Linked DNA regions of Homo sapiens. The protein of the gene in region 1 purifies or fractionates together with the protein of each later gene. This does not show direct contact. Each region holds a gene or a part of one and is shown in the gene's direction. Other genes may lie near its edges. The genes, in order: CCDC68, BTN3A2 and RPSA2.

Region 1 (3,383 bases):
GTTGATTAGGTTACGGAAATGAACTGGCTGGATGAAGATCTGATTTAGAAAGACTGCGTGAGTCTTATTTATTCTCTGAAACACAGCCCAAGTTTCATGTTAAAATGGCAAAATGCCATTATTTAAATGGAACTTATTACATACCAATGGCTTTGCAAGAAGATGACATTTCAGAAAATCAAACAAATCTATATTTAATGGATGGACTCTTCAAAACTTACCAAATAGTTGAAGAAACCAGGTGCCTTCTCATGATGGAAGACAGATTCTGCTTTAAATTAAAAAAAAAAAAAAATCTGAATCTTGTTTTCAGATTTTTTTTTCTACTGGGATTGTTTTAAGATTGTCAATTCTGACTTTTTTATAGTGGTTTTTAAGAGTATAAATAGAAGGGAGAGTGTATATGTGTATGAATGAACATACATTTCCTGCATATATATGTATGAAGGGCATGTATATGTATGAATGAGCAAACATATTTGAAAGTTAACTTTTGGATGATAGGAAAGATCGTACAGTGACATAAGTTCATCTCCTGATCCATTGTTTGTGGGAGAATTATACTTGACTGAATTATGGGCAGGAGAAAGAGCAGATTCCTTTTAGCTAATTCCCCAACCCATATGCCCCTCTGAAGTTGAGAATCATGGCTGCCTCACCACACATCAGAGAATGACTGTTCTTCTTAGTTCTGGGATTAAAAATTGGTTTCTAGAGGTAACCTGTACACACAAACGCACAGGGATGCACATGGTTTCCTCTGCCTTTGTGACTAATTTTCTTCTTGATAGTTATTAATAGTATCTAAATAAAATATTGGGGGGATAGAAAAATAATGCTGTTAGCTCATACTTCCATGAAAATGTATATATTATAGGCTCAAAGGAATAATGACTGCTGTCTGCAGCCAGAAAGAATCTGAATTTATGAATTGGAAAGATATATATAGTGTATTTGTGAAAGTTTGCTTAAATTCTGATACATGCCTTCTTTGTAGGTGGAGTTTGTGATTGCAGTGAATAGAACAAATTCTGACTTGCAGAAATGCAGACATACAGTCAGGAAAGAACAAACTTCAATTAAATGTATAATGAGAGACCTTGGTCCCCCTAAAGGATGAATTTCCTTTAGGCCTTTGATCTTCCTCTCTAGTGTATAACTTTAAATATTTGCTCAGAAAAGATGCTGACTCTTTCATTATGGAATGTGAAATATCAGTGTTGTCTATAAATATTTGAAGGTATATAAAAATGAGATGATGTAATGTATTTATAAATTTATCCAAGTACTGTAATCCTTGAATTGTTGTGTAACTGTGTGTGAGTTTTACGCTTCATGGTATTTTTGGAAACATTTTTATTGCTTGCTTATTTTGAAGGTATATTTATCTGTTAACATTTAGGGCATAGTTACCTTATACCAGCAACAAGTCTAAGCACTTTACTTGTATTAATTTATTTTATCTTCCCCAAGGCCCTCAGAAGCAGATTATTCCTGTTTTACAGAGAAAGATACTGAGAGTGGTTGAGTAATTTGCCCAGCTGCTAACTGTGAAGCAAAAATTTGAACCTTTTGACTTGGCTATTGATATTCATTCTACTTGCTCACATGGTGGTCTAAGAAATTTCCCAGCTATAGAAATCTCTCTATTTTTGCCACTTTAATCAACACATAGCTTCCTGGATGACTGCCTGTGTTATTTTGTGGATGACAGTAAGAAACAACAAATACTGATAAAATCAATATTTTGCTGAAATGAGTTGATCTTTCACCAGCTGGACTACCATTGTGAGAACTCAGTTCAGACAAACTTCCCTGCTAAAAATCTGTTTATCATACATTTATTATTTATGACTTTATGTCACATTGAAGAATTTCTTCATGATACATTTTCAGGCACACTTGTAGGAAAATTAGGATCATGAGTCCTGCTTTAAGTATTTGCAGTGTAGTAAGAGAATCCATCTTTTACTAGGAGACCAGATTCCTTTTATACCTCATTCATCATGCTGGATTGTAATAAATTTCAGATTTTGGAATGGGCTTATTTAACTGACCTGACAATCTTGATGATTTCCATTAGAATAACTTATTCTAAGGTCAAAAGTGGAAAGACACTGTTGGTTTTTATTTTGATTTCACTATACTCATTTTTGAACATGGAAATACAGTGGTGAAACCACCTATGCAAAAATGATAACAGTGAGGAAATTATGACAGTGAAAGAGATCTGACCTAACTATCTATCTTGCCTCGAAACTGCCCTTGGTCGTTCCTGAGTGTGGGCCAAGCTAACTTTGGGAGAAATTTACTTTATAGGTTAAATTATAATAGCCCTTCCCAAAACTAAACGATTCTCCTGCCTCAGCCTCCCGAGTAGCTGTCTTTATAATACCATCAGCCTTATCATTTATTCGTCATGTATGGATTGTTTCCTATATCCACTATCATAAAATTATCATTTGAAATATTTTTTTATGAAAAAAAAAACACTTCTCAGTGAAAAAACAAGATTACAAGGGGGAATAATATTTATTCAGCTAAAATAGTACTTCACAGGAAATATAGGAAAAGAAACACTAGTTCAGTTTTATTCCAAATAATGTACTTCTAATTATACTCTTGAATTTATTGGATAAGAAGGTCTGAGGTGGGTCTGAAATTCATACATGAAGTCAGGAAAAGAAAAGAAACTTAGTTCTACCTTGATTACATATGTTGTTACAAATTATCATTATAAAATGTTTAAACAATTAGTATAGTATATCTTTTGAATAATTGCTTATAATATGCCTTACCATAAAGAAAATTGATGCTACATTGTGTGAATTGTTTGGTTTTCTTTTTATATTAAAATTATGCATAAATGAATTAAGTAGTTTTTTGGTTTTTGTGGTTTTTTGTTTTTGTTTTGTTGTTGTTGTTTTGAGACAGAGTTTTGCTCTTGTTGACGAGGCTGGAGTGCAATGGCGCAATCTCGGCTCACTGCACCCTCCGCCTCCTAGGTTTAAGCAATTCTTCTGCCTCAGCTTCCCAAGTTGCTGGGATTACAGGCGACTGCTACCACACCCGGCTAATTTTTTTGTATTTTTCGTAGAGACAGGGTTTTGCCATGTTGGCCAGGCTGGTCTCGAACTCCTGACCTCAGGTGGTACACCCGCCTCAGCCTCCCAAAGTGCTGGGATTACAGGCGTGAGCCACCAGCGCCAGACCAGTAGGTTTTATCTGATTGTTTATGACAACATTATCCATAGTATATGTATTGTTTTGGTCAGTGAACAGATTTATAAATAGCTTCCTGAATTTTTCTGCTGCTTTTCCTTGGATTTAAATTGACAATAAAATAAATCTACTAAGCTTTTACTCTAAATTTGAAAAAAGAG
Region 2 (3,656 bases), on another chromosome or scaffold:
GAGGTAAGATCTTCTTCGGTCACCATATTTGAGTTAGCCCTGGGGAAGTGGACATTTCCATGCAGAATCCTAAAGCTTCTTCCAGGCCATAGTGTCTGTCCCACACCTTCTGGTATCTCTTGATATGCAGCATAGATGAAAATGGCAAGTTCCCTGGCTTTCCTTCTGCTCAACTTTCATGTCTCCCTCCTCTTGGTCCAGCTGCTCACTCCTTGCTCAGGTAGGGAATGATTCCATGATTCCACATTTATGTTTCTGAAGCAGACAATTATCTCAATTACCTAATTAAGCAGACAATTACCTAAATGCCCTCTTAGAACCTTTAACTCATTCCCATACCTGGAAGTCCATCCCAACCTGAAGGATCACCTGTCACAAAGAGACAAATGGTCCTTCTGTTAGGATTGTGTTCCCCTCTAGGTTCTCTGTATCTCGCCTTCCCTGTCTGAGAAGGACCCTTCCTCTCATGACCCCAACTCCAAAACCCTCTGATGGAGCTTCCCCCTTGTGCTGACAGCTCAGTTTTCTGTGCTTGGACCCTCTGGGCCCATCCTGGCCATGGTGGGTGAAGACGCTGATCTGCCCTGTCACCTGTTCCCGACCATGAGTGCAGAGACCATGGAGCTGAAGTGGGTAAGTTCCAGCCTAAGGCAGGTGGTGAACGTGTATGCAGATGGAAAGGAAGTGGAAGACAGGCAGAGTGCACCGTATCGAGGGAGAACTTCGATTCTGCGGGATGGCATCACTGCAGGGAAGGCTGCTCTCCGAATACACAACGTCACAGCCTCTGACAGTGGAAAGTACTTGTGTTATTTCCAAGATGGTGACTTCTATGAAAAAGCCCTGGTGGAGCTGAAGGTTGCAGGTGAGCCTCCAGGTTTTGTTCTGAGAACATTTCTCTGTAGGATCTAGAGCAGATGCAGAGTCCCTCTTGCAAAAGCACTGCAGACACTCCTGGCTGCTCACTAGCAATTGCCTGCACTGCCTCCCAACTTAGCTTCTCTGAGGCCCTTGAGTAAGACACAGGTTTTCCTTTAGGAAGAATTCCTGCTGTACCCTACATGCTCAAGTAAAGAACTCCTTTCCTCTGGCCACCAGAGATATAAGCGAAGTGAAGGACGAGGGATAGGAAGCATAAGAAACCATCTCTTCAGTGACTGGTACACAGTCATTTTGGTTTAGTTGTGTAACAGATGGCTTCTGTTGTGTCTCCAAGTGCACACTACCATGGGTCCTGGGAGGTGGAATAGTGACTGTATCTGCTGCCAGTGTTCTCCAACTAGCCATCCCCAGGAATACTCCTGTAGTAGAACTAGCTGTATTTCTTACGTGTTGCAGTGAGGAAGAACACACATCATGGGGAGCTGTGGCGGGGTCTCAGTAAGAAGGTGTTAGAGCAGACTTGGTATACAATTTGGGCTTGTGTTAGGGGATTGGGGCCGGGGGAGTTCATAGACTTAGCCCTCTGCTCTGGATGAGATTCCATCAGGAAGGTGTGGGCAGGTTAATTCTGAGTGAGAGCCTTAATCAATCTTATGTAGGAAGAAGGAGACCAGGGTGAGACAAAAGCTGTAATTGATGAAGGGGCAGCAATCCCTCATTGCTGAGGGGGGATGTTTGGTCACTGCTGTGGTTTGGACAATGTTCATGTTTTTCTCTATGCTCACATATGATGTGGGGTGGTATTGTTTTTCCCATGATCCATCATAGTCACAAAGTGCCATTGTCTGTGTTCTGTGAAATTGCTTATGTTCAACAGGATGACACAGAGACCCGGTGTCAGTTTCCATATGTTGGGACAGCTTTTCTCTTTCTCAGTGCAATCCCTTGCCCTGTGGCTGCTGGTTAGGTTTGGTTTAAGGGGATCTCTAGCAGACAATCATAGGAGGAAGAGAAAAGGAAGAAGTCTGGGTGCTTATTCACTGGCTTCCTTACTGCAAGTTACCCTCAGGCTGGCTGCATTGCCTTGCTGAAGGTAACAGCTCCTCTAAAGGAAGTCCTCAATGCATGAATCTCTTCTTTTTTGTGTTCAAAACAGCTTCCTCTCCTCCTCCCTCTGGTAATTGGGGTGGGTGGGAATAGCCCCACTGTTTCTGACCCTGGGATACTGCACTAGCAAATTTAGTTTTCCCCTCATCATGACCACACTTTTGTAAACAGCTCCTGAATGAAATATCTCTTGAATTATCAAATCTGAGCCTGACATTGATTCCCATTGAGACCCTCCCTAATACAGGAGCTATCCAGAATTTAGGCCAAATTATCCTTCCACAGCACTGGGTTCTAATCTTCACGTCGAAGTGAAGGGTTATGAGGATGGAGGGATCCATCTGGAGTGCAGGTCCACCGGCTGGTACCCCCAACCCCAAATACAGTGGAGCAACGCCAAGGGAGAGAACATCCCAGCTGTGGAAGCACCTGTGGTTGCAGATGGAGTGGGCCTATATGAAGTAGCAGCATCTGTGATCATGAGAGGCGGCTCCGGGGAGGGTGTATCCTGCATCATCAGAAATTCCCTCCTCGGCCTGGAAAAGACAGCCAGCATTTCCATCGCAGGTCAGTACCTGCTTGGCCTCAGGTTTTCTGAGCTGAGCTGTGGCAGTTGAATGAAGGGGGATGTGTTAATATCTGTGGTCGACCTGGGTCTCTGCACTGAATATAAGGCCCAAAGCACAGACCTGGAGGCTCCTCTTTGTGCCAGGGGAGCTTCTTTCCTCCATAAAGGTGTTCGTAACACAAACATTTTCTGAACATTTCCTATCTGCCAGAAAGTATGACAGGCAATGGGAATTGGAGGAAAAACATTAAGATAAGCTCCTTATATAATGTGAAATGACAAAATGGTTATATATATATATTTACAAACTCATATCATAGAGAAAGAGCTGATCTCCTTGAATCAGAAGGAGATTCTAAAAACCTAGTAAAAAGTTTTGGCCAGGCATGGTGGCTCACGCCTGTAATCCCAGCACTTTGGGAGGCCGAGGCAGGCAGATCATTGAGGCCAGGAGTTTGAGACCTGCCTGGCCATGGTGAAACTCCATCTCTTCTAAAAATTCAAAAAATTAGCCAGGTGTGGTGGAGTGCACCTCTAATCCCAGCTACTCAGGAGGCTGAGGCACGAGAATCACTTGAACCCAGGAGGCAGACGTTGCAGTGAGTGAGAGCAGACCACTGCACTCCAGCCAGGATTACAGAGCGAGACTCTGTCTCAAAAAATAAATAAAATAAAATAAAATAGAAACCAAGTAAAAAAAATGTTAACAAAGCCCATGAATTATCAATTCACAGAAAAGGAAATAACTCACAAAAGGGTGCTCATTCTCACTCACTGGGTAAACATATGAAATAATTTTTCACTTATGATATTTGCAAAAATCAAAACTGCTTTGGCTTATAATACATGATTCTCATAGGAATGTAGGAAGGCAGTGACTCTCAGTCATTTGCTCATGTAACTTCCTGTATTTTTGATGTGCATTAGGTCAACCTCTGTTGGGGGCTCTATAGCAATATCTATCCAAACTACACACTTATCGATCCAAACTTCCACTTCTAGGAATTTATCTGATAGATAAGCTTGCATTTGTATGAGATGATCCATGTGAAAGGTTTCTGTTTTTCGTTGTGTGTGTGTCTTTTTTTTTTTTAGACAA
Region 3 (3,656 bases), on another chromosome or scaffold:
TGTGTTTGTTTTCCTGTATACAAAAATAAATGTTATCCTTGTATTTTTTTTCTAACTTGTATATTTGTTGTGTAGGTTTGTTGTGAATGGTTTTCTAATTCTGCGTAGATGAGTCATCATAAAATACTCTTTTTTTTTGAGATGGACTCTTGCTCTTCTTGCCCAGGCTGGAGTGTAATGGCGCGATCTCAGCTCACTGCAACTTCTGCCTCCTGGGTTGAAATGATTCTAGTGCCTCAGCCTCCTATGTAGCTGAGATTACAGGCATGTGCCAACATGCCTGGCTAATATTTTTGTATTTTTAGTAGAGACAGGGTTTCTCCATGTTGGTCAGGCTGGTCTTGAACTCCCAACCTCAGGTGATCTGCCCGCCTCAGCTTCCCAATGTACTGAGATTACAGGTGTGAGCCACCATGCTCAGCCCATAAAATTTTTATAATTTCAACAACCTATTTATTTGTAAATCTATATGATTTCTGTGTGGGAGAAACACTTTTGGATTTGAATATAATTTAAAACTATCATAACTCTGTATCTCTTTTAGTTATTATTGTTTATTTCTTGTCAAAAAAAAACAAAATTTACCACAAAATATTTTTAAATATTTAGTCATATCAATTATCTTGACATTGTCATGCAACATATTGCTAGAATGTTTTTATCTTGCAAAGCTAAATCTTAACACATATTAAACAACAAGTACTAATTTTTAATTTTTTCTTTTTTTCTTTTTTCTTTTTTTTTTTGAGCTGGAGTCTTACTCTGCTACTCAGGCTGGAGTGCTGTGGCATGATTCACCTCACTGCAACTTCCACCTCCCGGGTTCAAGCAATTCTCACGCCTCAGCCTCCTGAATAGCTGGAATTACAGGTGCCCATCACCATGCCTGGCTAATTTTTGCATTTTTAGTAAAGATGCAGTTTCACCATGTTGGCCAGCGTGGTTTCAAACTCCTGACCTTAGGTAATCTATCTGCCTCAGCCTTTCAAAGTGCTGGGATTACAGGTATGGGCCACCATGCCTGGCCACAATTTTTTCTGTTTTATAGCGTTTTGCAAACACCACTCTGTTTTTTGTTTTTAACAGTATAACTACTTCATGTATGTCATAAAATCTGTGTCTTTTTGTGATTGGCTCATTTCATTTTGCATAATGCCATCAAGATTTATATTTATAGTTGGTAGAATATTTCCTGCTTTTGAATACTGAGTATATTCCAGAATATATATATATATTTTTTGAGACAGTCTTGCCCTGTCACCTAGGCTGGAGTGCAGTGGGGCGATCTTGGCTCACTGCAACCTCTGCCTCCTGGGTTCAAGCAATTCTTTTGCCTCAGCCTCCCGAGTAGCTGGGATTACAGGCACGTGCCAACACGTTTGGCTAATTTTTGTATTTTTTTTTTCAGTAAGGACAGGGTTCACCATTGTTGGTCTGGTTGATCTCGAACTCCTTACCTTGTGATCTGCCTGCCTTGGCCTCCCAAAGTGCTGGGATTACAGGTGTGAACCACCGTGCCTGGGAAGAATTTTTATATTTCAAATTATATCTACTGAATGATTTATTGAAAGATATTTGCATTGCTTTTACCTATTTGCTTACAGTAACAATGCTGCAGCTTTTCCGCGCTACCTGCAGAGGGGTCCATACGGCGTTGTTCTGGATTCCCGTCGTAACTTAAAGGGAAACTTTCACAATGTCCGGAGCCCTTGATGTCCTGCAAATGAAGGAGGAGGATGTCCTTAAGTTCCTTGCAGCAGGAACCCACTTAGGTGGCACCAATCTTGACTTCCAGATGGAACACTACATCTATAAAAGGAAAAGTGATGGCATCTATATCATAAATCTCAAGAGGACCTGGGAGAAGCTTCTGCTGGCAGCTCGTGCTATTGTTGCCATTGAAAACCCTGCTGATGTCAGTGTTATATCCTCCAGGAATACTGGCCAGAGGGCTGTGCTGAAGTTTGCTGCTGCCACTGGAGCCACTCCAATTGCTGGCCGCTTCACTCCTGGAACCTTCACTAACCAGATCCAGGCAGCCTTCTGGGAGCCACGGCTTCTTGTGGTTACTGACCCCAGGGCTGACCACCAGCCTCTCACGGAGGCATCTTATGTTAACCTACCTACCATTGCGCTGTGTAACACAGATTCTCCTCTGCGCTATGTGGACATTGCCATCCCATGCAACAACAAGGGAGCTCACTCAGTGGGTTTGATGTGGTGGATGCTGGCTCGGGAAGTTCTGCGCATGCGTGGCACCATTTCCCGTGAACACCCATGGGAGGTCATGCCTGATCTGTACTTCTACAGAGATCCTGAAGAGATTGAAAAAGAAGAGCAGGCTGCTGCTGAGAAGGCAGTGACCAAGGAGGAATTTCAGGGTGAATGGACTGCTCCCTCTCCTGAGTTCACTGCTACTCAGCCTGAGGTTGCAGACTGGTCTGAAGGTGTACAGGTGCCCTCTGTGCCTATTCAGCAATTCCCTACTGAAGACTGGAGCGCTCAGCCTGCCACGGAAGACTGGTCTGCAGCTCCCACTGCTCAGGCCACTGAATGGGTAGGAGCAACCACTGACTGGTCTTAAGCTGTTCTTGCATAGGCTCTTAAGCAGCATGGAAAAATGGTTGATGGAAAATAAACATCAGTTTCTAAAAAAAAAAAAAAAAAAAATGCTGCAATAATTATGAGTCTATAAATGACTACTTATATGACCATATATGTGAAAGTTTATATATGTGCTGCATTCTATTTTATTAGTCTACTTTTTCACCTTTATACTCATATCAAATTGTTTAATTTGGTAGCTTTGTAATGTGTTTTGAATCAGGCACTTTAATGCCTGCAGCATTCTTTCTTTCTTTTTTTTTTTTTAATATTGTTGGGTAGTTTGTTTTTCTTTTGAGTCTCTGTATACTTTTGAGGTTGGTGTTTCTATTTCTTCAAAAATGCAATGAGAAATTTGAAAAATATTGCATTAAATCTGTAGATTGCATTGAGCAGGATGGACTCTGCAATATTAAGTATTTCAACCTTTGTGTAAGAGCACACTCAAGAGTGTGTTGTTTAGTTTCTATATATTTGTAAATTTTTCAGTTTTTTTTTTTTGCTTTTATCGTTGTATATTCTCATTCCATTTTGGTCATAGAATGTAGTTCATAGAAATTTACTTTTAAAAAATTTGATAAGACTTCCTTTTTGTCCTAAGATGTGGTCTTTCAAGGGAAATGTTGTATGAGCTATTGAGAAGGGTGTGTATTCTGATGTTGTTGAGGAGTGTTCTCCATAACTCTGTTTGGAATAATTGTTTTATACTGCCTTTAAGTAGTCTGTTCTTTTATTAACATTCTTTCTTGTTTTAGTTTTATTACAAAAAGTGTGGTATTAAAATATATTGTTCTAATTATATTGCTTTCTGTGTGTTTCTTCCATTCTGTCAATATTTGCTTTATATACTTGGAACCCTAATGTGAGACACACACACACACACACACACACACACACACAAATTTGTCATAGATTCCCTGTGAATGAATCTATTATTTTTTGATGTCCTTCTTTGTTTCTTTGGAGTTTCAATTTCAAGCACATTTTATAAAATATTATACTTTCTGACTTAAGATGTAGCTTGTGTGATATTATTTTGACTCTTTCTGCTC

Evidence for each region.
Region 2: the proteins of CCDC68 (region 1) and BTN3A2 purify together in Homo sapiens (affinity purification with mass spectrometry; 2 studies listed by BioGRID and IntAct, with this or other methods). This does not show direct contact.
Region 3: the proteins of CCDC68 (region 1) and RPSA2 purify together in Homo sapiens (affinity purification with mass spectrometry; one large-scale study listed by BioGRID and IntAct). This does not show direct contact.

The regions. Positions count from the first base shown.
Region 1 is NC_000018.10:54,900,997-54,904,379, reverse strand, and holds the end of CCDC68 (coiled-coil domain-containing protein 68), read left to right. Parts: coding exon 1-22; 3' UTR 23-2,871; downstream 2,872-3,383. UniProt on the Homo sapiens protein: Centriolar protein required for centriole subdistal appendage assembly and microtubule anchoring in interphase cells. Together with CCDC120, cooperate with subdistal appendage components ODF2, NIN and CEP170 for hierarchical subdistal appendage assembly.
Region 2 is NC_000006.12:26,368,048-26,371,703, forward strand, and holds part of BTN3A2 (butyrophilin subfamily 3 member A2 isoform a precursor), read left to right. Parts: 5' UTR 1-3; intron 4-130; 5' UTR 131-135; coding exon 136-220; intron 221-517; coding exon 518-865; intron 866-2,274; coding exon 2,275-2,556; intron 2,557-3,656. UniProt on the Homo sapiens protein: Plays a role in T-cell responses in the adaptive immune response. Inhibits the release of IFNG from activated T-cells.
Region 3 is NC_000019.10:23,825,466-23,829,121, forward strand, and holds the end of RPSA2 (small ribosomal subunit protein uS2B), read left to right. Parts: intron 1-749; exon of another isoform or gene 750-870; intron 871-1,604; 5' UTR 1,605-1,696; coding exon 1,697-2,584; 3' UTR 2,585-3,403; downstream 3,404-3,656. UniProt on the Homo sapiens protein: Required for the assembly and/or stability of the 40S ribosomal subunit. Required for the processing of the 20S rRNA-precursor to mature 18S rRNA in a late step of the maturation of 40S ribosomal subunits. Also functions as a cell surface receptor for laminin.